Homo sapiens: one gene and its partners. The protein of the gene in region 1 interacts with the protein of each later gene in a pairwise test. Each region holds a gene or a part of one and is shown in the gene's direction. Other genes may lie near its edges.

Evidence for each region.
Region 2: the proteins of NMNAT1 (region 1) and NFATC2IP interact in binary tests that used the Homo sapiens proteins (3 or more experiments, as listed by UniProt).
Region 3: the proteins of NMNAT1 (region 1) and KPNA3 interact in binary tests that used the Homo sapiens proteins (3 or more experiments, as listed by UniProt).
Region 4: the proteins of NMNAT1 (region 1) and KPNA5 interact in binary tests that used the Homo sapiens proteins (3 or more experiments, as listed by UniProt).

Annotation. Positions count from the first base shown.
Region 1 is NC_000001.11:9,981,442-9,985,998, forward strand, and holds the end of NMNAT1 (nicotinamide/nicotinic acid mononucleotide adenylyltransferase 1), read left to right. Parts: exon of another isoform or gene 1-325; intron 326-859; coding exon 860-1,260; 3' UTR 1,261-3,694; coding exon of another isoform or gene 3,695-3,702; 3' UTR 3,703-4,057; downstream 4,058-4,557.
Region 2 is NC_000016.10:28,946,425-28,953,962, forward strand, and holds the start of NFATC2IP (NFATC2-interacting protein), read left to right. Parts: upstream 1-4,512; 5' UTR 4,513-4,587; coding exon 4,588-4,974; intron 4,975-5,707; coding exon 5,708-5,780; intron 5,781-6,477; exon of another isoform or gene 6,478-7,538. UniProt on the Homo sapiens protein: In T-helper 2 (Th2) cells, regulates the magnitude of NFAT-driven transcription of a specific subset of cytokine genes, including IL3, IL4, IL5 and IL13, but not IL2.
Region 3 is NC_000013.11:49,698,808-49,705,703, reverse strand, and holds the end of KPNA3 (importin subunit alpha-4), read left to right. Parts: coding exon 1-83; intron 84-3,223; coding exon 3,224-3,318; intron 3,319-3,805; coding exon 3,806-3,904; 3' UTR 3,905-6,384; downstream 6,385-6,896. UniProt on the Homo sapiens protein: Functions in nuclear protein import as an adapter protein for nuclear receptor KPNB1. Binds specifically and directly to substrates containing either a simple or bipartite NLS motif.
Region 4 is NC_000006.12:116,684,203-116,691,235, forward strand, and holds part of KPNA5 (importin subunit alpha-6), read left to right. Parts: intron 1-5,117; coding exon 5,118-5,251; intron 5,252-7,033. UniProt on the Homo sapiens protein: Functions in nuclear protein import as an adapter protein for nuclear receptor KPNB1. Binds specifically and directly to substrates containing either a simple or bipartite NLS motif.

The DNA of each region.
Region 1 (4,557 bases):
AGCCAGGATGGTCTTGATCTCCTGACCTCATGATCCGCCCACCTCGGCCTCCCAAAGTGCTGGGATTACAGGCGTGAGCCACAGCGCCTGGGCCTTATTTTTTTTGTTTTATAGAGATGGGGTCTCACTATTTTGGCCAGGTTGGTCTTGAACTCCTGGCCCCAAGCAGTCCTCCTGCCTTGGCCTCCCAAAGTGTTAGGATTACAGGTGTCAGCCACTATGCCTGGCCTTTATTTTCATTTTATATTGCATACTTGTGGGTGTCTGGAAAATGCCCCTTGTTAGTTGCATGAAGTGAAGGAGAATAAAAGGCACTTGGAGCTTATTTCTCCTGCAGTGGTCTCTAATCTTTGAGGTGTCCTGGGTCTCTTTTGGGAATCTGATTCTCATAAAATAAAAGCTCATAAAAACTGTGAACTGTCATTCTTTTTTTTTTTTTGAGACAGAGTTTTGCTCTTGTTGCCCAGGCTGGAGTGCGATGGCACAATCTCGGCTTACTGCAACCTCTGCCTCCCGAGTTCAAGTGATTCTCCTGCCTCAGCCTCTCAAGTATCTGGGGTTACAGGCGTGCGCCACCACACCCGGCTAATTTTGTATTTTTAGTAGAAACGGTATTTCACCATGTTGGTCAGGCTGGTCTCAAACTCCTGACCTCAAGTGATCTACCCGCCTCGGCCTCCCAGAGTGCTGGGATTACAGGCTAGAGCCACCGCACTCGGCCTAAGCCCTCATCCTTGAAAAGCACATACGTATCTTCATTTTGATACAGTGGGTTATTAGAAAAGTAAACCCCTTTCCACTTGGAGGAGGTAGAGGGGAAGAAAAAGCATACCCCAAAGCTCTGTTTTATTCTTCCCAGCTGTGCCAAAGGTCAAGCTGCTGTGTGGGGCAGATTTATTGGAGTCCTTTGCTGTTCCCAATTTGTGGAAGAGTGAAGACATCACCCAAATCGTGGCCAACTATGGGCTCATATGTGTTACTCGGGCTGGAAATGATGCTCAGAAGTTTATCTATGAATCGGATGTGCTGTGGAAACACCGGAGCAACATTCACGTGGTGAATGAATGGATCGCTAATGACATCTCATCCACAAAAATCCGGAGAGCCCTCAGAAGGGGCCAGAGCATTCGCTACTTGGTACCAGATCTTGTCCAAGAATACATTGAAAAGCATAATTTGTACAGCTCTGAGAGTGAAGACAGGAATGCTGGGGTCATCCTGGCCCCTTTGCAGAGAAACACTGCAGAAGCTAAGACATAGGAATTCTACAGCATGATATTTCAGACTTCCCATTTGGGGATCTGAAACAATCTGGGAGTTAATAACTGGGGAAAGAAGTTGTGATCTGTTGCCTAAACTAAAGCTTAAAAGTTTAGTAAAAATCGTCTGGGCACAGTGGCTCACGCCTGTAATCCCAGCACTTTGGGAGGCTGAGGCAGGTGGATCACGGGGTCAAGAGATCGAGACCATCCTGGCCAATATGGTGAAACCCCATCTCTACTAAAAATACAAAAATTAGCTGTGTGTGGTGGCACGTGCCTGTAGTCCCAGCTACTTGGGAGGCTGAGGCAGGAGAATCACTTGACCCCAGGTGGTGGAGGTTGCAGTGAGCCAAGATTGCACCATTGCACTCCAGCCTGGCGACAGAGCAAGACTCTGTCTCAAAAAAAAAAAAAAATTTAGTAAAAATCAATGGTAAGCTAAAATAAGTTTTTGTTTGTTTATTTGTTTTTGAGATGGAGTCTCTACTAAAAATACAAAAAATTAGCCAGGCATGGTGCCGCATAACTATAATCCCAGCTACTTGGGAGGCTGAGGCAGGAGAATCGCTTGAACCCGGGAGGCACAGGTTCCAGTGAGCCAAGGTTGTGCCACTGCACTCCAGCCTGGGCAAAAAAGCAAAACTCCATCTCAAAGAGAAAAAAAAAAAAGACCGGGTGTGGTGGCTCACACCTGTAATCCCAGCACTTTGGGAGGCCTAAGTGGGTGGATCACGTGAGGTCAAGAGTTCAAGACCAGCCTGGCCAATATGGTGAAACCCCATCTCTACTAAGAATACAAAAAATTAGCTGAGCATGGTGGTGGGCTCCTGTAGTCCCAGCTACTTGGGAGGCTGAGGCAGGAGAATCGCTTGAACCTGGGAGGCAGAGGTTGCAGTAAGCCAAGATCGTGCCATTGCACTCCAGCCTGGGTGACAGAGCGAGACTCCATCTCAAAAAAAAAAAAAAGCCTGACAGCTAGCAGGTTTCAGGATCCATCTGCCAAGTTAGTGAAAGGCTGGAGCCTCAAATCATACAGATGAGGGTCATTTTCTCCTCCTTAGCTTCTTGGAGTTTAAGAGTTGAAGGAGTCCTGAAAAGTAATGATAGAGCAAGATGAAGCTATCAGAACTGAATTTGGACTTCCTCTGGGAAACTACACCTAGTTCATCTGAAGTGTCACGTAAACTGCAGAAAGTTTCCAATGCTGGAAACTTCTCTCATACTATCGTGCCTTCCTACTCAGAAGTGCCTGTGCCCTGCTCAGCTGTGACTACTGACCTCAGGACCTCACTGGACAAGGCATGTGGGGACCCTTGCAGGAGCCCTGGTAAGGGTACAATGATCCTATTGTTTTTTGTTTTTGAGATGGAGTCTCACTCTGTCTCCCAGGCTGGAGTGCAGTGGTGCGATCTCCGCTCACTGCAACCTCCGCCTCCCGGGTTCAAGCAATTCTCCTGCCTCAGCCTGCTGAGTAGCTGGGATTACAGGCACCCACTACCATGTCCGGCTAATTTTGTATTTTTAGTAGAGATGGGGTTTCGCCATGTTAGACAGGCTGGTCTTGAACTCCTGACCTCAGGTGATCTGCCCACCTCGGCCTTCCAAAGTGCTGGGATTACAGGCATGAGCCACTGCACCCAGCCTGATCCTATTGTTGCACTATTTATGGAGCAACAACTTTGTACAAAGAACAAGCTTTGTACAGAGAACAAGCTTGGCTTTTTCTCCCAACGCCGAGGATGCTGTTGATGCTGCCACGTAATAGCATAATTTTGGGTGTCCTCAAGGACAGAACTTCCACTTTGAATAATGGAAGTTAGAACAATGAATTTCACAGGGGAATAAATATTAATGACTGACGTGAAGAAAATATGCCATTGTTTATTCCCTCCTGCATCATTTCCATAATTTGCTTTTGTACTGTCAATTTAGAGGAAATGTGTGATGCTGGTGTTTTGTTTGGCCTGTTTGTTTGATGCTGGGGGTTTTATGTGTTGTACCCTTTACCCCTTACATTGTGTAATTTGAAAGTGGCAAACAAACCTGCAGTAAAAGTCCTTGATTGGCATCTTCATTCGGATGATGGAGAGCCTTTGTGGTAGTGTTTGCTTATGTGAACAGCAGGCCTTTCAGATAAGAGAAGTGGCTTTTCCTTGGTGATGAAGGGGTAGAGATTGAGCCATGGGGATGGTTTAGGTTAAAGAATGCTTTTTTTTGGCCATCATGAGGATCTAACAACAGAGTAGAAGGAAGGATGCCCTAGGTCAGCATGCAGGGTGGTGGGAGGGCTTTCATCTTCCTTACCCAAGCCTCTCTTTTCACTTTTCTAGAAGTCCAGAAGTTGTTATATGATGAAATAGCCTCCTTTAACGTTTATTTCTGGGTGCCAACGGAGGCCCATTCCTCTAACATTCTCATAATTTTTCTCAAAGGCCTATGATCTAAACATTTCACCACGGCATCCACTCAGCTGTGAGGCTGCGTACACAGTCTCCACCTCTGAAATCTGAACTTCGTTTACCAGTGGTGCTGTTTGAACTTCATAATGTCAGCACTTCCTGAACACTTACTGTGTGCTTGGCTTGTGCTCCTGAGTGCCTTATATCATAAGGAAACGGCAAAATCAGGGGACTGGTATAAATGGTGAGCTGAGCTTGAATCTAAGCTTTGTCTTCAGAGCCAGTACCCCTAATCTCTCTTTCTGTAAAATATTACTTTTCAAAGAATGAAGTTGTAGCCAAATCTTGAAATTTTTCATTTACCCTAAGTGAGGACAAATAAAGCTTTCAACAACAGTTTGTGGTAGTCTGATGGAGATGAGTCCGACGTATTCAGTCCTCACGGAAGGACTAGGCTGAACTTGCCCAGTGTTAGCAATTCCTTGGAACTAGAACAGTGGAATCCGAGGGAGAAGGTGATATGGGCCATAATTAACTTTTGTGTTTGTGTGTGTGTGTATGTGTGTGTGTGTTTGCTTCTGAGACAGTTTTGCTGTGTCACCCAGGCTGGAGTGCAGTGGCACAGTCTCGGCTCACTGCAACCTCTGCCTCCTGGGTTCAAGCAATTCTCCTGCTTCAGCCTCCCAAGGAGCTGGGATTACAGGCGTGTGTTACCACGCCTGGCTAATTTTTGTATATTCAGTAGAGACAGGGTTTCACCGTGATGGCAAAGCTGGCCTCAAATGATCCGCCCACCTTGGCCTCCCAAAGTGCTGGAATTACAGGTGTGAGCCATCACGCTCTGCCCAGATAGGGTTTTTGACCTGTCATAGTGGTGCCTGGTCCCATTATTCTCT
Region 2 (7,538 bases), on another chromosome or scaffold:
AAATTAGCCAGGCGTGGTGGCGCATGTCTGTAATCCCAGCTACTCAGGAGGCTGAGGCAGGAGAATCGCTTGAACCCGGGAGGTGGAGGTTGCAGTGATCCAAGATTGTGCCACTGCACTCCAGCCTGGGCAACAAGAGTGGAACTCCATCTCAAAAAAAAAAAAGTTTTAAAATGTATTATTATTTTTCGTAGAGTTGGGGGTTTTACTATATTGCCTAGGCGGGTCTTAACGCTCAGCCTGAAGTGATCCTCCCACCTTGGCCTCCCAAAGTGCTGGGATTACAGACGTGAACCACTGTGCCTGGCCTTAAATTGTATGTATTTATTTATTTTTAGAGAGAGGGTCTTGCTCTGTTGCCCAGGCTCGAGTGAAGTGGTGAGATCATAGCTCACTGCAGCCTTGAACTCCTGGGCTCAATCAGCCTCCCAAGTAGCTAGGACTACAGGTGTGCATCACGACACCCACTAATTATTATTACTTTTTGTAGAGACAGGGTCTTGCTATATTGCCCAGGCTGGCCTTGAACCCTAGACCTCAAGTGATCCTCCCACCTCAGGCTCCCAGTGCTGGGATTACAGGCATAAGCCAACATGCCCGGGCTGGTTTTATTATTGAATAAGCATAATTTTTCTTTCTTTTTTGACATGGAGTTTCACTCTTGTTGCCCATGCTGGAGTGCAATGGCACAATCTCAGCTCACTGGAACCTCTGCCTCCCGGGTTCAAGTGATCCTCCTGCCTCAGGCTCCGGAGTAGTTGGGATTACAGGTGCCCACCACAATGCCTGGCTAATTTTTTGTATTTTTAGTAGAAAAATACACCACCATATTGGCCAGGCTGGTCTCGAACTCCTGACCTCAGGTGATCCAACCACCTCAGCCTCCCAAAGTACTGGGATTAGAGGCGTGAGCCACTGCACCCGGCTTGAATAAGCATTAAGTTAGAATGTGATGCACATCACTGGCAATCTGGTAAAAGATTGCAAAGGCAAAAAGAAATATCCTTCATTACAGCCAAGCAGGTGTAAACCATTATCCTGTTTTCAAGATAAAATTTCAAATTCCATATTGTTACAGGAGCTGCAGGTTCATATGCCCACTGTGCAGTCACAGCTCTGTGACTCTGAGACGGTGGGGATGCAGCAGAGAGAGTTTAATGATTGCAGGGTGCCGAGCGAGGTGATGGGAGGAGACCCTCAAATCTCTCTCCAGGGAGTTCTGGGCTGGGCTTTTAAGGGGTTTGTGGGGAGTGATGGGCTGGAATATTGGGGTCATTGATTGGTTGGGAAGGGGGATGAAATTGTCAGGGTGTAGAAGCTGCATTTTGCGGGGAGTCAGCTCCTTGTGGGGTCCTTCAGGTCAGCTGAATCAGTAGTTCCATCAAGACCTGAAGGAATATCTCAAAGGGAACACCTAATGTAATGTCCAAGCCGTGATTCAAGAGCAGTTAAGGGGAACTATAATCTTCTGACAGGGGCTGTGTGACTGTGGGGCAACAGGCACCAGATGGCTTTGGGGAAGCAGGTCAGGGAGCAGCTGCCCTGAGATCAATGCTGAGTGCACCGCAAGTTTGGTTTCTTTTCATTTCTCCCTCTCCCTTCTTCTCAAGTTTATAGGGGTGGTTGCAATACCATGTTTTCAAGATAAACAATGACTAGTCCTCACGTAAGAGGACGTGACAACACCTTTAGTCAAACATAGTTCAGCCTTTTTTTTTTTTTTTTTTTTTTGAGACGGAGTCTCGCTCTGTCGCCCAGGCTGGAGTGCAGTGGTGCAATCTCGGCTCACTGCAACCTGCGCCTCCTGGGTTCATGCCATGCTCCTGCCTCAGCCTCCCGAGTAGCTGGGACTACAGGCGCCCGCCACCACGCCCAGCTAATTTTTTGTATTTTTTAGTAGAGACAGGGTTTCACTGTGTTAGCCAGGATGGTCTCAATCTCTGGACCTTGTCATCCGCCCGCCTTGGCCTCCCAAAGTGCTGGGATTACAGGTATGGGCCATCGCGCCTGGCTTTTTTTTTTTTCTTTTGCAACAGAGTCTGGCTCTGTCTCCCAGGCTGGAGGGCAATGGCTCGATCTCGGGTCACTGCAACCTCCACCTCCTGGGTTCAACTGATCCTCCTGCCTCAGCCTCCCAAGTAGCTAGGAATACAGGCGCACACCACCATGCCCAGCTAATTTTGTTTTGTATTTTAGTAGAGATGGGGTTTCACCATGTTGGCCAGGCTGGTCTCGAACTCCTGACCTCAAGTGATCCACCCGCCTCGGCCTCCCAAAGTGCTGGGATTACAGGCGTGAGCCACCACGCCTGGCCCCAGTCTAACTTTATGATGGTAAGTGGGGTGACCACCTGTGTTATTGAATTGGCTTGTATGGTAGGGGTGAGTAGACACAAACTTTTCATATCTTTAGGACAGGAGGTAGCCTGCATCTTGGAGCAAGACTGAAGCCAAGCTTTTCCCTCCTAGGGGAAATGGGAGACAAGAGAGCTAACTGCCTTGACGACGGCATTTCGTCAGGGCTCCCAGGTCCTTGAATTCCTGAATTTGGAGACTGGCAAGTGGCTTATGTAGCCATCATGAAGATTTACATATGCCAGGCTGGGTGCTGTGGCTCACACCTGTAATCCCCGCACTTTGGGAGGCCGAGCCAGGTGGATCACTTGAGGTCAGGAGTTCAAGACCGGCCTGGGCAACATGGTGAAACCCCGTCTCTACTAAAAATACAAAAATTAGCTGGGCAAGGTGGCAGGCAACAGTAATCCCAGCTACTCGGGAAGCTGAGGCAAGAGAATCCTTTGAACCCTGAAGGTGGAGGTTGCAATGAGCTGAGATCGCACCATTGCACTCCAGCCTGGGCAACAGAGCAAAACTCCGAATCAAGAAAAAGAAAAAAATAAAATAAATAGTCGGGCGCAGTGGCTCACGCCTGTAATCCCAGCACTTTGGGAGGCCAAGGCGGGGGCGGAGGGGGGTGGATCACCTGAGGTCAGGAGTTCAAGACCAGCCTGACCAACATGGTGAGACCCCATCTCCACTAAAAATACAAAATTAGCTGGGCATGGTAGTGCACGCCTGTAATCAATCCCAGCTACTTGGAGACTGAGGCACGAGAATTGCTTGAATCTGGGAGGCAGAGGTTGCAGTGAACCGAGATCGAGCCATTGCACTCCAGCCTGGGCAATAAGAGCGAAACTCCATCTCAAAATAAATAAATAAATAAAATTAAATAAATGAATAAAATAAAATTTAAAAATAAATAAATACATAAGATTTTTTTTTGAGATGGAGTCTCACTCTGTTGCCCAGGCTGGAGTGCAGTGGTACAATCTTGGCTCAGTGCAACCTCTGCCTCCTGGGTTCCAGCGATTCTCCTGCCTCAGCCTCCCGAGTAGCTGAGATTATAGGCGCCTGCCACTACGCCTGTCTAATTTTTGTATTTTAGTAGAGACAGGGTTTTACCATGTTGGTCAGGCTGGTCTCGAACTCCTGACCTCAGGTGATCTGCCCACCTCGGCCTCCCAAAGTGCTGGATTATAGGCGTGAGCCACCACGCCCAGCCTTATTATTTCTATCTTTCTTTCTTTTTTTGAGAGAGAGTCTCGCTCTGTCGGCCAGGCTGGAGTGCAGCGGCAGGATCTGGCTCACTGTAACCTCTGCCTCCCGGGCTCAAGCAATTCTCCTGCCTCAGCCTCCTGAGTAGCTGGGATTACAGGCGCACGCCACCACGCCCGCCTAATTTTTGTATTTTTAGTAGAGACGGGGTTTCACCGTGTTGGCCAGGCTGGTCTTGAACTTCTGACCTCGTGATTCGCCTGCCTCGGCCTCCCAAAGTGCTGGGATTACAGGCGTGAGCCACCGCGCGCGGCCAGCCTTATTATTTCTTTAAAGCATTTTTGAGACAGGGTCTCGCCCTGTCACCCAGGCTGGGGTGCAGTGGTGCGATCTCCGCCTCCCGGGCTCCAGCGAAACTCCCACCTCAGCCTCCTGAGTAGTTGGGACCACAGAGGGGTGCCACCACGCCCGGGTAATTTTTGCATTCTTAGTAGAGACGCGGTTTCGCCACATTGGCCAGGCTGGTCTCAAACTCCTGAGCTCAACCAATCTGCCCGCCTCAGCCTTTCAAAGTGCCAGGATTACGGGCGTGAGGCACCGCGCCTGGTTAAATCCGCGGTTTCCACAGGGAATTCCAGGCCCGCCTTCCTTCTCCCGGAAACCTTACCGCTCGAGGACTACATTTCCCAGGATGCCCTGCGACTAACCAAGCCGGAAGACGGTTGTCTTGGTTGGGCGGGTCCGGGAGAGGCTCGTCTGTGGAGAGGTGGCCCAGCCAATGGGTGAGGCCGACTGAATCGAAAGCTACGGTGATTGTGCCGAGGTGATTGGAATCTTTGGCGCCTTGGTTTCAGAGGTGGGCGCATGATGAGCGGGTACAGAGACCAATGAAAAGGCGGGAAGGCGGATCCCGCGCGTGGGGCGCGAAGAGTTGCTGACGAGCAGGCTGTTTGTCCAATGCAAGGCGAAAGTCGCTGAAGGGGGCGGGGCGAGGCGAGAGGAGGCGGGCGTGTGTTGTGGAGGAAAGTGTGCCATGGCGGAGCCTGTGGGGAAGCGGGGCCGCTGGTCCGGAGGTAGCGGTGCCGGCCGAGGGGGTCGGGGCGGCTGGGGCGGTCGGGGCCGGCGTCCTCGGGCCCAGCGGTCTCCATCCCGGGGCACGCTGGACGTAGTGTCTGTGGACTTGGTCACCGACAGCGATGAGGAAATTCTGGAGGTCGCCACCGCTCGCGGTGCCGCGGACGAGGTTGAGGTGGAGCCCCCGGAGCCCCCGGGGCCGGTCGCGTCCCGGGATAACAGCAACAGTGACAGCGAAGGGGAGGACAGGCGGCCCGCAGGACCCCCGCGGGAGCCGGTCAGGCGGCGGCGGCGGCTGGTGCTGGATCCGGGGGAGGCGCCGCTGGTTCCGGTGTACTCGGGGAAGGTGCGCCCGGTCCCGGGGAGGGGACCGGCGGAAGGGCCAAGGGCTTGGCCTCCAGGGAGGGGCCGGCGTTCGGGGAGGGTAGGGCTATAGGGGTGTTGAGGCTGGCGTTCTGGGGCTGGTCCTCGGGCGTTAGGGTGTTGGAGGCAGGGAGAGGCAGGGCTCCGGGACTTTCTGCAGACTGGGGTGGTGAAGGAGGGTGGGATGCGTTGGAAGTTTAGGATTCCTAGGAGCTAGAGTCTTGGGGGCACAGGGAGGCTGAAGAGCTGGGATTCCTGAGATTTTGGAGAGGGACTGGGAGGACCTGGGGCCGTTGGATTTTGAGGTTGGGGTCCATGGCAAATGAAGCCAGGGAGCTGCAGTATTGGGGGTTGGGGTCCATGCGGGTTCAGAGAGGACTGGGCGGCTCCAGAGGCTGGGGTCCCCCGATGGTCGTGTGAGCAATGGGCTGAGAGTCCCTAAGAGTCAGGGGTAGAGGGGCGGCTAGTAACCTAGTTAAAAAGGGCAAGGAAGCATACATTTCAGAGTGTCTTAGGCAGATGGAGGAAAGGGTGAAGGGTACTTCCATTCTGAATCCTGGGGAAGCTGGACTTCTAGGTTGCCAGGAGAGGGCCAAGGTGTCCACGATCTTAGGGAGGATTTGGGAGCTGGGTGTCAGGGAAGAATTACCCCCAATTTTTTCTTTCGGTAGGGGAAGGACTTGGGCCTGACCCCTCTCCCTTCTTTGTCTTTGCAGGTTAAAAGCAGCCTTCGCCTTATCCCAGATGATCTATCCCTCCTGAAACTCTACCCTCCAGGGGATGAGGAAGGTAAGGGAGGGCCTCCAGGGAGAGGCACGCAGCCGCTGGCTTCTCTTAAGAGAATTCCTGGGGTTTATATTCCTGCAGTCAGTTGTCTCCTGAGGCTCAAGGGAAGAGCGTGGGAGAGGGGACTCCTGCATCCCAGCCACAGGAGCTGGATTGTTAACAAGCATAGAATGTATTAATGTATACATTTCTGGTGCCACCTGAAGAGATGCTGATTCTGTAGTCCTGGGCGGGGCAGGAGGCGGTAAGGTGTTGAGAATCTGTGACATCTTGTTACATCTGCAGCAAGTTCTTTGGGAACACTGGAGCCAGCAGGGTGTTCTCTGAATCTTATCAGGGATGCCCTGTCTTTGTCCTCCCCCACTGATGCATTTTTTGCAAACAACTCAAGGGCGGGGAATAGGAATCTAGTCTAATAAGGAAATAATCCAGTGGGCAAATGGAGACCTTGGACCAAGACTCTTGTACCATGAGGGAGTACAGTGGGGTGATTAAAAGCAAACAGGAGCCATCTGGCCTGGGTTTGAATCTCAGTTCTCTCTTTTTTTTTTTTTTTTTTAGACAGAGTTTCGCTTTTGTTGCCCAAGCTGGAGTGCAATGGCACGATCTCGGCTCGCTGCAACCTCCACCTCCTGGGTTCAAGCGATTCTCCTGCCTCAGCCTTCCCAGTAGCTGACTAATTCCCACCACGCCTGGCTAATTTTTTGTATTTTTAATAGAGATGGGGTTTCACCATGTTGGCCTGGCTGGTCTTGAACTCCTGACCTCAGGTGATCCGCCCATCTTAGCTTCCCAAATTGCTGGGATTACAGGCGTGAGCCACTGTGCCCGGCCTCAGCTCTATCTCTTAATAGCTGTGTGATCTTAGGCGAGTTTCTTTTTTCTTGTTTTGAGACAGAGTCTCACTCTGTCACCCAGGGTGGAGTGTAGTGGCGCAATCTTAGCTCACTGCAACCTCCATCTCCCAGGTTGAAGCCATTCTCCTGCCTCAGCCTCCCGAGTAGCAGGGATTACAGGCGCCCGCCACCATGTCTGGCTTTTTTGTATTTTTAGTAGAGATGGGGTTTCATCATGTTGGCCAGGCTGATCTCGAACTCCTGACCTTAGGTGATCTGTCTGCCTTGGTCACCCAAAGTGCTGGGATTACAGGCGTGAGCCACCACGCCCAGCCTGGGCAAGTTTCTTAATTTCTCAGTGCTTCAATTTCCTCATTATCAAAGTGGGGATAATAGTAGACCCCATTTTGGTGCTGATTTTGGTGAGAATTAACGAAAGGGAATATAGAGAGAGCTGCCTCTTGGCTAGATATATGCTTTAGGACAGTACCTAGGACACAGAAGTGCTACGTAAAAGGTACCTCTATCCCTGATACTCAAAACGTGGGCCCAGCCATATATGGCATCCGTTGGAAGCTTGCTAGAAATGCAGGATCGGCTGGGCACAATGGCTCAAAGTGCTGTAATCCCAGCACTTTGGGAGGCTGAGATGGGAGGATTGCTTGAGCCCAGGAGTTCGAGACCAGCCTGCGCAACATGATGAGACCCTGTTTCTACAGAAAAATAAAAAATTAACCAGGCATGGTGATGTGTACTTGTAGTCCTAGCTACTCAGGAGGCTGAGGTGGGAGAAACACCTGAGCCCAGGAAGTCGAGGCTGCAGTGAGCCATGATCATGCCACTGCACTCCAACCTGGGTGACACAGTAGGACCTGGTCTCAAAAAAAAAAAAAGAAAAACGAAATGCAGAATCATAGGCCTCTTG
Region 3 (6,896 bases), on another chromosome or scaffold:
GGTTCTAGATGGTCTAAAAAACATTCTGATAATGGCCGGTGATGAAGCAAGCACAATAGCTGAAATAATAGAGGAATGTGGAGGTAAGAGTGGATTGATGGAAGAAGAGTATTTGAGCACTGGAACTCTGAAACATAAGTTCTTTAAAGTCAACTTACTAGACAGAAAATTACTAGGATACGTTGTTTTTAAATGATCACAGTATGTTGCTTTTCTTTATTCACTATATTTGCATTCCAAGAGGATTTTCCAGAAGACAGTAGTCCATACTTTGCAAAATCAGGTTGTGAAAGTCACTGTATAGCCTTCTAGAGATTGACAACATAGCTTTTTTTTTTTTTTTTGGAGACAGAATCTTGCTCTGTCGCCCAGGCTGGAGTGCAGTGGCACAATCTCAGCTCATTGCAACCTCTGCCTCCCGAGTTCAAGCAATTCTCACACCTCAGCCTCCCAGGTAGCCGGGATTACAGGCGCACACCACCACACCCAGTGGATTTTTGTGTTTTTAATAGAGACGAGGTTTCACCATGTTGGCCAGGCTGGTCTCGAACTCCTGACCTCAAGTGATCCACCTGCCTCAGCGTCCCAAAGTGCTGGGATTACAGGCATGAGCCACTGCGCCTGGCCTGACATTGCATTTTAGGAAACACTAATACTTCTCTTGAAGTCACAGTGCATGACAGCAAATTTAAGAGCCCTTACAACACTACATAAATTTTAAAGCTTTATTTAATCCAGCATTTCTTAAACTTCTTAACAATGAAACACTTTTTTTGTGTGTTATTACCATGTAATTCTGTGGACCCCACTTTAGGAAATATTATTTCATATAGTTGGAAAAGGTTACTGACTTCTGAGTCACCTAGATATTTTGTTTCAATCTTGTAATGATTCTTAGGATTTCCACAACTACATCCTGAAGTTATTACTGTGGCAGTTACTTTGAAATTTTAATGAGAAATAATTGTGATTTGACATACTGTATTATTCTTTAATGACATGTGAAACATATGTTAAAATTCTGTTTTTAAATGTACATGTTCAATATGTACTAACATGTTTAAACCTTAAATTAGTTTATCATAATGTCATGTTTTAGATTTTACATTTCATTGACTACTTTATATGAATATTCTATTGTTTATTTATTTATTTATTTTAAGAGAAAACAAATGCAGTAGTACCGTAGAATATTCAGACTGGGAGGATTTCTTTCTTTCTATTTATTTATTTATTTATTTATTTATTTATTTATTTATTTATTTATTTTTTATTTATTTATTTTTTTTTTGAGACAGAGTTTCGCTCTTGTTGCCCAGGCTGGAGTGTAATGGCTCACCGCAACCTCCGTCTCCCGGGTTTAAGCAATTCTCCTACCTCAGCCTCCCTAGTAGCTGGGATTATAGGCATGCACCACCACGCCCGGCTAAATTTTTGTATTTTTAGTAGAGGCAGGGTTTCTCCGTGTTGGTCAGGCTGGTCTTAAACTCCCAACCTCGGGTGATCTGCCCGCCTCGGCTTCCCAAAGTGCTGGGATTACAGGCGTGAGCCACTGCACCCAGCCGGGAGGGTTTCTTGAGAAGAAATTATCCCACAGATTTTAAGGAGTCTTGTCCAAGGTGACAGAAGTAGGTTGTGATAGAAGCAAAGTTAAAATCCAGATCTTCTTACTATTAAGATAATTAAAAATTGTAGTCAGGTTCATAACACAGTAAGTTTGAGCAACTTAGAGAATTACTACTCTTCAGCTTTTTATCAATATAGTTACTTTTGTCTATAGGAGTAATAGGATACATATTAATATTTTATAATTGTATAAAGCACTTTGGCAACGATTTCCCCCATTCTTTTGGTTTATTAGTATATAAGAAAAAATTGCAACTATTTTAAAATAACCTTCAAAAAGACATTTCAAGGAAGAATATTAAGGTGTGAAATTGATAAACATGTATATGATGTGTGGAGTAAATATATTGGAAATATAAATGAAGGCATTCTATGATATCTGTTCTGGAAATATTTTCTCCCAGGTTCATTGTGGCTATAGGACATAAGACCTCTATTCATTTTTTAAAGAAAGTTTTTCAAAATTTAAATCTTTATATCTTTTATACCAATTATAAGGTTCTAAAAACTCATTTTGTGGTTATATAAAGGTAATAACATTTGGAAAACAAAGAGAAAGATACAAATTACTTTATGAGGCAGTAAGATTAATAAGATTGGCCGGGTGCAGTGGCTCACTCCTGTAATCCCAGCACTTTGGGAGGCCAAGGCGGGCGAATCACGAGGTCAGGAGTTCGAGACCAGCCTGGCCAACATGGTGAAACCCCGTCTCTACTAAAAACACAAAAAATTAGCTGGGCATAGTGGTGGGCACCTGTAATCCCAGCTACTTGGGAGGCTGAGGCAGGAGACACTTGAACCCAGGAGGTGGAGGTTGCAGTGAGCCGAGACGTGCCACTGCACTCCAGCCCTGGCTACAGAGTGAGACTCCGTCTCAAAAAAAAAAAAAAAAAAGAAAGAAAGAAAAAATGCCCAGGCGCAGTGGCTCACGCCTGTAATCCCAGCACTTTGGGAGGCCGAGGTGGGCAGATCACGAGGTCAGGAGATCAAGATCATCCTGGCTAACATAGTGAAACCCCGTCTCTGCTAAAAATAGAAAAACTTAGCCGGGTGTGGTGGCGGGCGCCTGTAGTCCCAGCTACTTGGGAGGCTTAGGCGGGAGAATGGCATGAACCCAGGAGGCGGAGCTTGCAGTGAGCCGAGATCACACCTCTGCACTCTGCACTCCAGCCTGGGTGACAGAGCGAGACTCCGTCTCAAAAAAAAAATAGATTAGTAAATTTATATTAAAGCACTGTGGGGGAGTTGGTTCTAGTACTGTCACAAACTTGCCATATAACTTGAAATAAGTCTCTTTACATATTTATGCCACAGCTTCCCTCTGTCAAATGGATTGTTTGGGTGTTTTTTTAGACTGTCTGCCTCAGGGATCCGGGTACCTCAAGGGCTTCTAAGAAGGAAAAAATTAGTGGGATTCTGGTCCTCCAACTAGAAGCAGCCCCGTGTTTTGTCTGTTTTTTAGACAAACCACTATCTTAGATGGGGGAGCAGTGTGTTCTGAGTTCCTTAGGATTTCTCCATGATTAAAATGAGTGTGGTTTTGATTAGTATCTCCTTATCAATTAACCAGTTATTTTGATTATTTTATTTTTACCAGGTTTGGAGAAAATTGAAGTTTTACAGCAACATGAAAATGAAGACATATATAAATTAGCATTTGAAATCATAGATCAGTATTTCTCTGGTGATGATGTAAGTAGATATTAAAATAGCGTGTATCTTCATGTAAATGAAAACCTATACATGATGTAAATTTACTAAGAGTTTTCCTTTTATTATTAGGATGACATAAGTTTGTACTGTATTTCTATTAGACATTCCATCAGTCACTTTCTCTTAAATACTTTGAAACTTCATTATAAGGTAAAGTTGTAAAAACAGTTCTTGTTTCATTTCTAATCTATTAACTAGGAAGAAATAGTAATTATATAAGTGATATATGTTCAGATAGGTTAAATAAATCTAGGTCCCAGATACAGAAACTTAACAATGCAGTTTCGAAACGTGTTAAATTTTAAATTGTTAAATTTCTTAATAAAATTATTGATTTACTCGAATATTTTTAGTTGGTTAAAGCATTCACATAGAATTATTTGCTAAGAGGTAAAAAGTCAATTCCACTTACATCATAATGTATAGTATCATAACCTAATAAGGATTTTTTTCTTGTTTTTTACAGATTGATGAAGATCCCTGCCTCATTCCTGAAGCAACACAAGGAGGTACCTACAATTTTGATCCAACAGCCAACCTTCAAACAAAAGAATTTAATTTTTAAATTCAGTTGAGTGCAGCATCTTTCCCACATTCAATATGAAGCACCACCAGATGGCTACCAAATGATAAGAACAACAGCAACAAAAGGCTCCAAAACACACATGCCTCTTTGTTTTGATGCTTCTAAAGCAAGCCATGTCTCAGTCACTTTGCAGTTGCCAAAAGTCACTATCACATGGACTGTAAATGCATATGCATGATTTCCTAAACTGTTTTAGAACTCTCCTTAACAATCTCAACTACCCTATTTTTCCCTGTTCCCTGGTGCCACAGGCTGACAACTGCAGTCTCCAGTTTAGAATAAATATTCCATAGTGGTGACATGTCAGCTGCCCACTGATACTCCTTTGGAAAATGGTGCGCTGTGGATCAAGACACTTTGGTATGATGCATATACAAGTTGGAAGACTAAAGAGGTGCAGTGTGATCTGAGCCTCCATCATTGTCCTCCACAAACATATTTTCATATTCTTTATGTGGAAGAATAGATTTTAAAGTACAAGCCAAATGATTTTCATTGGTGGAACTGACACAAAAAAAGTAACTTAAAAACAAGAAACTTGGTTATTGAATAAACAGATAAGTTTAAAAAAAAAAAAAAACTACTTCATCTACCAGTAATTGATGTGTTTATTATCTGCCTCAGAAGCCAGGGTTGGAGGAAGAACTTTAGATATGGATATTAATGCTTTTGCCATTATACCTAATTTTTGAGAACAGCAAGCCCTATTTGACCACTCTCTTCAGCCTGTGTGTTCCTGCTGTTTTGAAGTAATCAAATGCTGTGCATGGTATTTTACCTGAGCTGCAACCTGTTATGGACTTGAACTTCTGTTTAAGTTGAAAGCAAGAGTCCCTGAGTATAAAGGAAAAACAGCAAAACAAAAAGCAAACAAAAAAAAACTGCAAAAGTCTAAAATACCCATTGGTGATGTTTTTTAAAAAAATCTTGCTTTCAGCTTTCAGGAGTTAATATTCTTTGTTTTAATTTGATAATTGGATATGGTTGATTTATATTGGGTTTAAACTGTGGAGCTTTCATGTTTACTGTAATTTAGTCTTAAAATATTTTTTACTTAGTAACCAGTGCTTTTGATAATGTGGTTGGCAACAAACCAGCAACTATTTAGAAGTGTCATAAGAGTTCATTCTTTGAGTATTGGGAAAGTTAATTCAGATCCTACTCAAAAAGCATCTTCACATATTAAAAGATTCAGACAGGGATCTGTGTAGAGGAGTAATTTGCAGTTATTTAACATAAACCTGATTTGCAGTGATCTCTAAGTAATTCTGCAAAATCCGGTATTACTATGTCAAGTTATTGCTTTTGGTAAATTGTCTGACCCAGTTATTAATGAAAGAATATGGATTTAAAAATTTTTAAACTAAATAATTTGTGCTGTCACAGAAATGGTATTGTTGCTCTTGTTTACTGGGTATAATTTCCCAATGCATTGATGTGAAGGGATAGAAAATCTAAACTAATTTAGTTATCCATTGGGGGGTGTATTTACTGTGATGAAGATGAGACAGATGCCATCAGAGCTTTGTGAATCAGCTGGGGTGTTTTCACTGATAAACAACACATAGCAGGTGTGCATTCATTACAAATATATGTATCTGCCAAGGTGGAGCCACTTTAAAGAGTGAGTTTTGTCTTGTATCTAAAGTGGATACAAGCGTATGTTTAAACTGCAAGATTTTTACTTGCTAGAGAATCTGTTTTAATATAGTGGTTTGGCCTCTGATTATTTATAGGTTTTATAAATTTTAGAATCAATTTCTCTTTAAGGTGGCTCAGATTTTTCAACTCTTGTGCACATAAAATTGAGTTGAAGTTCATTGTGCCTTTTTTTCTTTATCCAAATTTTGAGTTAAAGCTTCATATGGTAACTGCATCCTGTTCGGACACTATAGTCTAAATTTTTGAAACTGTGTGGTGTTCGCTAAAAGTAGGAATAACAACGTAAAAGCTAATTAAGGTCACAAACTTCGGTGAAACCCTTAAAAGTCCAAATCTTCTTGATATTGTGAACCGTACCCCTTCCAGTTTAGTTTCTTCTGGACTTTCCTTACTTAACTGACAGTTACCTTTTAAAATTTGCACACATTATGATTAAAATTGGGCCTCTACTGTGATGATTCCTATTTCCTCTCATGTTTTAAAGTGCAAACTAACATTTAAGTGAACATTAGCATCAAGTAGTGCAGACACTTGTATGCATTTCCTTGATTCAATTTGTGACCTTACCAGTTTTGAATTGGAATTGCACCATTTCGTAGATAAAGGAAACTAAGTATATTGCTGCACTTTTAAGTTTTCAAAACAGTGTTTAAAAATTGCATTGTTATTTTTTTTTAAACTCAGTTTAAAAAGACTAAAACGTTCTTTCAAAAGAGGCATCTAAATGTGTTCCTAATTTTGTATATGGGCTTAGGTTTTGTAACCAATAAAAAAAGCTGCTATCAAATATGATAAAACATTGAAAACTTATTTCTGAAAATAACTTGTTTGTTTTCTGTATGGTTAAATTTAAATTTGGAATTATTTTTTTAAAAATCACAATGGAGGTAAATCATGAATTACTCTTTTACTGTATTTTAATATCTCCTTCACACCATATTACTGAACTAAACTGGAGTCTGTTCACCTGGCACAGTTAGGCCAAACATTCATAGCAAGGTTTTGCAGCAGGAAAAAGGAGGGCATTTATCTGCAGGCAGGGCACCAAACAAGAAAAATGAGGCAGCTCACACTTAAGACCCAACTTCCCTCATGGCTTTACAAGCAAGGGTTTTTAAAGGCAGGGGTGAATTTCAGGAAAGCATAAATTACAGGCAGAATTGTACATCAGTACACAATGGTTTGGCCTAGAAAGGTGGGCTGTCTTGAAGCCGAGGGTGGCAGGGGGTGACTTATAGGTCATAGGTGAATTCACAGATTTTCTTATTTGCAGTTGATTAAGGAATCAAAGCTTTGTCAAAAAACTTGG
Region 4 (7,033 bases), on another chromosome or scaffold:
CCGCCCGGCCATATTGAGCAGTTTCTAATGATATCTATTTGTAGGTGCACATAGTATTGCTGAATCTATTAAATATTTTAAAGGAGGAATTTTGGTAAATTAATCATGCATTTCTTTTCAATCATTCTCAAGTCCTCAGCCCCTTCCCTTCTACCTTGAGCTCCACCAGTAGTGAGATTTGTCTCACTATCTTTACCAGTGACATAATTACCAAATCTGATGCCTGATATGGTACTTGGATTATTACAGGCACTTTTATTTTCTGGATGAATCAATGAATGAATAAACCGAGTGGCCTGTTTTCAGTGGTACTACAACTTAAATATTCCTTTATCTTTTGAACTCCTTTCCTTTGCAGGACTCTTAATTTCTTCCTTATTCTTCTACTTCTCTGACCTACTTCTTTTTGGTTTCTTTTGCTCTTGCCTTTTTCTGCTAAAATATGATGGTCCCCAAGATTTCTCCTTTGGTCATCCTTCTTCTGTAGCTCTACATGATAGCAAATGATCACTCCAGATCCCTGTCCTGAGTTCTGATCCGTATTTTCAACCATCTACAGATCAAAGCCTCCTACATGTGCACCAAGTACTACACATTTACCATGTTTAAAACCAGAGTCACTATACACTTATTAGAATGGCTATGACTAGCAACAGCAACGACAAAACCCCTTAAATCATCAAATGGAGACAGGATGCAAAGCAACTGGAACTCTCATACATTACTGATGGGAATGCAAGATGGAATACTCACTTTGGAAAGAAGTTTGGCAGTTTCTTATAAAGTGAAACATAAACTTGCCGTATTATCCGTCAGTTCTACTCCTAGATATTTACTGAGTGAAATGAAAACTTATGTTTACACAAACACCTTTACATAAATGTCTGTAGCACATTTATTCATAACCTCCAAAAACTAGAAACCACCCAGATGTTCTTTAACTGGAAAACTGATAAACCGTGATCTGTCCCTACAGTGGAATAACAGCAATAAGAAAGGAGAGTTGATAGATGCCAACAATGTGGACGACTCAAATACCGTGCTAAATGAAAGAAGCCGGATTTATTTTGTTGGTTTTGTTGTTGTTGTTTATTTTACCTTTAGGCTCAGGGGCACATGTGCAAGCTTGTTGTATAGGTAAACTCGTGTCATGGGTGTTGTACAGATTATTTTGTCACCCAGGTACTAAGCCTAGTACCCAATAGTTATTTTTTCTGCATCTCTCCCTCCTCCTACCCTCCACCCTCCGGTAGGCCCCCAGTGTCTGTTGTTCCCTTCTTTGTGTCCATGTGTTCTCCTCATTTAGCTCCCACTTATAAGTAAGAACATGTGGTATTTGTTTTTCTTTTCCTGCATTAGTTTGCTAAGGATAATGTCCTCTAGCTCCATTCATGTTCCCACAGAAGACATGATCACATTCTTTTTTGTGGCTGCATAGTATTTCATGGTGTTTATGTACCACATTTTCTTTATCCAGTCTGTTACTGATGGGCATTTAGGTTGATTCCATGTCTTTCCTATTGTAAAAACTGCTGCACTGAACATTTGTGTGCACATGTTTTTATGGTAGAATGATTTATATCCCTCTGGATATACACCCAGTAATGGAATTGCTGGGCCAAATGGTAGTTCTATTTTTAGCTCTTTGAGGAATTGCCACACTGCTTTCCACAGTGATTGAACTAATTTACATTTGTTTTTTGACTTTTTTTCTTTTCCTTTTTGAGACATGGTCTCACTGTTGCCCGGGCTGGAGTGCAGTGGTGTGGTCATGGCCAATGTAGCCTTGACCTTTGGGCTTAAGTGATTCTTCCACCTCAGCCTTCTGAGTAGCTGAGACTATAGTCACGTGCCACCATGCCTGGGTAATGTTTTGATATTTTGTTGAGACAGGGTCTCATTGTGTGGCCCAGGCTGGTCTTGAACTCCTGAGCTCAAGCAATCCTCCTGGCTCTGCCTCCCGCCTCTGCCTCCCGAAGTGCTGGGATTACAGGTGTGAGCCACCATACCTGGCTCATTTTGACCTTTTAATAATAGCCATTCTGACTGGTGTGAGATGGTATTTTATTCTGGTTTTGATTTGCATTTCTCTAATGATCAGTGATGTTAACCTTTTTTTCATATGCTTCTTGGCTGCATGTATGTCCTTTGAAAAGTGTCTGTTCATGTCCTTTGCTCACTTTTTAATGGGGTTGTTTGTATTTTTCTTGTAAATTTGTTTAAGTTTCTTATAGATGCTGGATATTAGACCTTTATCAGATGCATAGTTTGCAACAATTTTCTCCCATTCTGTAGGTTGTCTTTTACTCTGTTGACAGATTCTTTTGCTGTGCAGGAGCTCTTAAGTTTAATTAGATCCCATTTGTCAATTTTTGCTTTTGTTGCAATAGCCCCTTCGTGATGAAATCTCTGACTATTCCTGTGGCCAGAATGATATTGCCTAGGTTGTCTTCCAGAGTTTTTATAGTTTTGGGTTTTACATTTAAGTCTTTAATCCATCTCGAGTTATTTTGTATATGGAAGGGGTCCAGTTTCAATCTTCTGCATGTAGCTAGCCTGTTATCCCAGCACCATTTATTGAATAGGGAGTCCTTTCCCAATTGCTTCCTTTTGTCAGTTTTGTCAAAGATCAGATGGTTGTAGGTGTGTGGCCTTATTTATGGGCTATTTTGTTTCATTGGTCTATGTGTCTGTTTTTGTACCAGTACCCTGCTGTTTTGGTTACTGTAGCCCTGTAGTACAGATTGAAGTCAGGTAATATGATGCCTCCAACTTTGTTCTTTTTGCTTAGGTTTGCCTTGGCTATTCAGTCTCTTTTTTGGTTCCATATGAATTTGAAAATAGTTTTTTCTAGTTCTGTGAAGAATGTCATTGGCAATTTGATAGGAATAGTGTTGAATCTGTAAATTGCTTTGGCCAGTATGTCCATTTTCACGATATTGATTCTTCCTATCCACAAGCATGGAATGTTTTTCCATTCGTTTGTGTCATCTCTGATTTCTTTTAGCAGCGTTTTGTAATTCTCACTCTAGAGGTCTTTCACCTCCTTGGCTGGCTATATTTTGAGGTATTTTATACTTTTTCTGGGAAGTCAGATTTAAAAGACTACATGCTGTATGAATCCACTTTTCTGAAATTCAGGAAAAGGCAGAACTATAGGGATGGAGAATTAACTTTTTACCAGATGTTAAGGGTCAGGGAGGGCTAATAGGAGCAGCTTGAGGGAGTTTTAGGGGGTGACAACTGTTCTGTGTCTTGATTGTGATAGTTACATGCATGTATATTTGTTAAATTCATAGAAATGTATACGAAAAGAGTGATTTTTACTAAATATAAATTTAAAAATAAACCTAAAATAACGGAATTCATTATTCTTGTCTCAGAAACAAGCCGATATGTAAACACAACAACCACTACTCTGATCCTCCATCCGTATTCTCTGTCTTATGTTATCTTGCCATACTACTCAGATGGCTCAGTTAAAAACCATGGAGTCATCCTCAACTCCCTTTTCTTCCTCACCAGATATCTGTTACATTCATTTGGCCTCTAATTTTTACTGAATCAATTTCAGAAATATTTCTAGAATCCAACTTGTCTTCTATGTTTTCATTGTAGTAACTTGTTTAGTTCACGCCTTCAGCATCTTTCCTATCTCTCTCTCTGAACTATGTAAAAACAACCTTTTCCTTAATTTGTTTAATTCTATTCCTTAGGATCAAGTCCAAATTTCACAGCTGCATTATAGGAACCATATGTCCTCTAACCTACCTTTATAGCTTTATGTTCTGCCATGCATCCTCATTTTGGACACACTTAGTCTCTTACTGTTCTTGGTTATGCAAGGCTTCTTCAAAAACTTTGCCTTTGCATATATTCCTTCTGCTTGAAATGCTTGATTCTCCCCATTTCTCTTTCCTGTTTTTCCTTTAAAATAGGATACCCATGAAGCTTTCAGAAGTCCCTAAGGCACAATTAGTTGCCATATCTTCACTGCTCTCTCAAGATTTAAAGCATGTATTTTAGTGTACTCCTTACAATAAAATTTGCCAATTCATTAGTCTGTCTCTTCAATATCAGGGATGGCAGACAGATGCCAGCCTCTCCTTCTCTTGTGTTTACTTCATAAGCTAATTGGTCACAACATTGTCTCTGGTTGGACATGGATATGTCCTCTGAATTTAACAGAATAACATACTGGGTACTCACTATCTACTGTTAAACTGAAGTTGGCACCCTGCTTTAGGCAGATTTTGTGTGTGTGTGATGTGTAAGTCCAGAATAGGTTATAATATCAGTATTTTAATATTCCTATAAGATAATATCAAGATATCAATACTGTTACATTGTTAAAGTTTATAATTCACTTTCTAAAAGTAAAACTAGCACATATATTCAAATATGAAATATATTTGCATATATTTTATGTATTTATAAAATAGGTATATAAATGTTAATGTTTTAAAATACATTTGCAATAAAACTACTTAAAAATAAAGTATACATGTATTTTAGTATTTCAAAAGAACTAATTATACTGGAGTACTAAAAACTGATATTGTAGTCATAATTCAAGTCCTGACCCTTGTGGCCATAGCTCTTAAGGCAATGCCTTCAGTAAGTGAAAGAAGCCAGACCCCAATAAATATTTGAGATGTGCTTACTGGAGCCTAATATCATATTTCATTAAAAATAAGATACTTCAAAGCTGGTTATTTCTTGATCTAGCCAGAAACTGTAATTTAGAAGACTTTTTTTTTAACCCAAATAATTCATGATTATTTCCTGACAGTAATTATGTTTCAGAAAGGTTAAAACACTGTGGGGGCTAGGGAGACAGGAAAGGTTGTTGCATCTTAGAATCAATAAGATAGGGTAAACTTTGTCTTTGTTTAGACCAAAATTATTTGTTTAAGATATTATTTCTAAAATATGTGGTCATTTTGCTCTAATCTTGATGTGGAATTAAGGGAATGTATTCTTTGTACATAATTTTCAGAATGGGTTTTGTTGACCTGTTAATCAGTGAGCCTGAATTTAGTTGCTAGATTAAGTGTCTCATGTTGTTTTGAGAGAGTGAGTTATCAGTGTCTGTTTTCTTTTCTCCTTCCTTTAAGATGCCATGGCTAGTCCAGGGAAAGATAACTATAGAATGAAAAGTTATAAGAATAAAGCCCTAAATCCTCAAGAGATGCGTAGACGAAGAGAAGAAGAAGGAATACAGCTTAGAAAACAAAAAAGAGAAGAACAGGTAGGTGTTTTTAGCTATTTAATTTTGTTTTTTAAAATTTTAATTATTTGCTAATTATTGGATAATTTTAAATGGAAATGTTTTAAGAAATTGAATATAGCTAAATCTATTATTTATTAGACTCCAGGCATCATAATTGCAAATTTGTGAAACAGAACTCTGTGCTACTTTAGTCACTGGGAGAAATGGATTTTCTGTTTTATTGATAAACCTGTTGTGTTAATTATATTTTTACCCTACTGCTAGGAAATTTTTCCTCTTGCATCTATTTAGATCACTTCCATTTGTCATTGTAAAATTTGCCCCTTAAAGAAACATTAATTATATATTATTTGCTGCTTTGTAGTTTTCATAATTCTTGCCCGTAAGTAAATTATTGTCATCTTCCCATGCTATTCATACTGTTCCCCCATTGTCTTATTAGCTGGATCTCTGTTTATACTTTTCATATGTGACATAAAGAATATAAAATTGTTTAAGAGAGTACATCTCAACATTTTTTATTCCAAGATGTACTTAAATGTAGAAGTATTTGTAAGTAAGTAAAATAATGTGGTTCTCACACATGTGAATTAAAACTGATGTATGAAAAGGACTAGCAGTGAAGAAAGTAGAAAAGGCCTATTCTCTTCTATTGTATTCTATTCTATTGTATTCTGTAAGTAGAGATGGGGTCCTGCTATGTTGCCCAGGCTGGTATTGAACTCCTCGCCTCAAGCAATATTCCTGCCTCTGTCTCTCAAAGTGCTAGGATTACAGGCATGTAATAGGCAAGGCCTATTTCAGAAATATGATAATGATTTCTCATCTCCCTATCTACAGCGTCTAACACAATCCTTCATACATTATAGTAGGTACTAAAAAAATTGTGTTGAATAAATGATTAGAAGGAAGATTGTTTACATATTAAAGAAGAACAGGCTGGGAGCCCTGGCTCACCCCTTTAATCCCAGCACTTTGGGAGGCTGAGGCGGGCGGATCACGAGGTCAGGAGATTGAGACCATCCTGGCTAACAAGGTGAAACCCCATCTCAAAAAAATTAGACATGCGTGGTGGCTGGCGCCTGTTGTCCCAGCTACTCAGGAGGCTGAGGCAGGAGAATGGCGTGAATTCGGGAGGCAGAGTTTGCAGTGAGCCGAGTTGATGCCACTGCACTCCAGCCTGGGCGACAGAGTAAGACTCCATCTCAAAAAAAAAAAAAAAAAGAAGAACGATATTTATTTAGATGTCAAAAAGAATATAAGCAGATTTTGTTTTCCTCAAATTTTGATTTAGGAAATGTAGAGTTATCCCTTGGTTCCAGGATCCTCTGCAGATATCAAAATTCACTGATGCTCAGGTCCTTTATGTAAAATGGCATGGTATTTGCATATTACCTGCACACATCCTCTTGTATATTTTGAGTCATCTCCAGATTACTTATAATATCTAATACAGTGTAAATGCTGTGTAGTTGAGTTGTTATACTGTGTTGTTTTAAAATATGTATTATTGTCGGGCTCAGTGGCTTATGCCTATAATCCCAGCACTTTGGGAGGCCTAGGTGGGCGGGTCACCTGAGGTCAGGAGTTTGAGACCAGCCTGACCAACATGGTGAAACCCCGTCTCTACTAAAAATAAAAAAATTAGCCGAGCATGGTGGCGCACGCCTATAATCCCAGCTACTCAGGAGGTTTAGGCAGGAGGATCGCTTGAACCCAGGAGGTGGAGGTTGCAGTGAGCCGAGATTGTGCCACTGCACTCTGTCCTGGAGACAGAGCGAGACTCCGTCTCAAAAAATA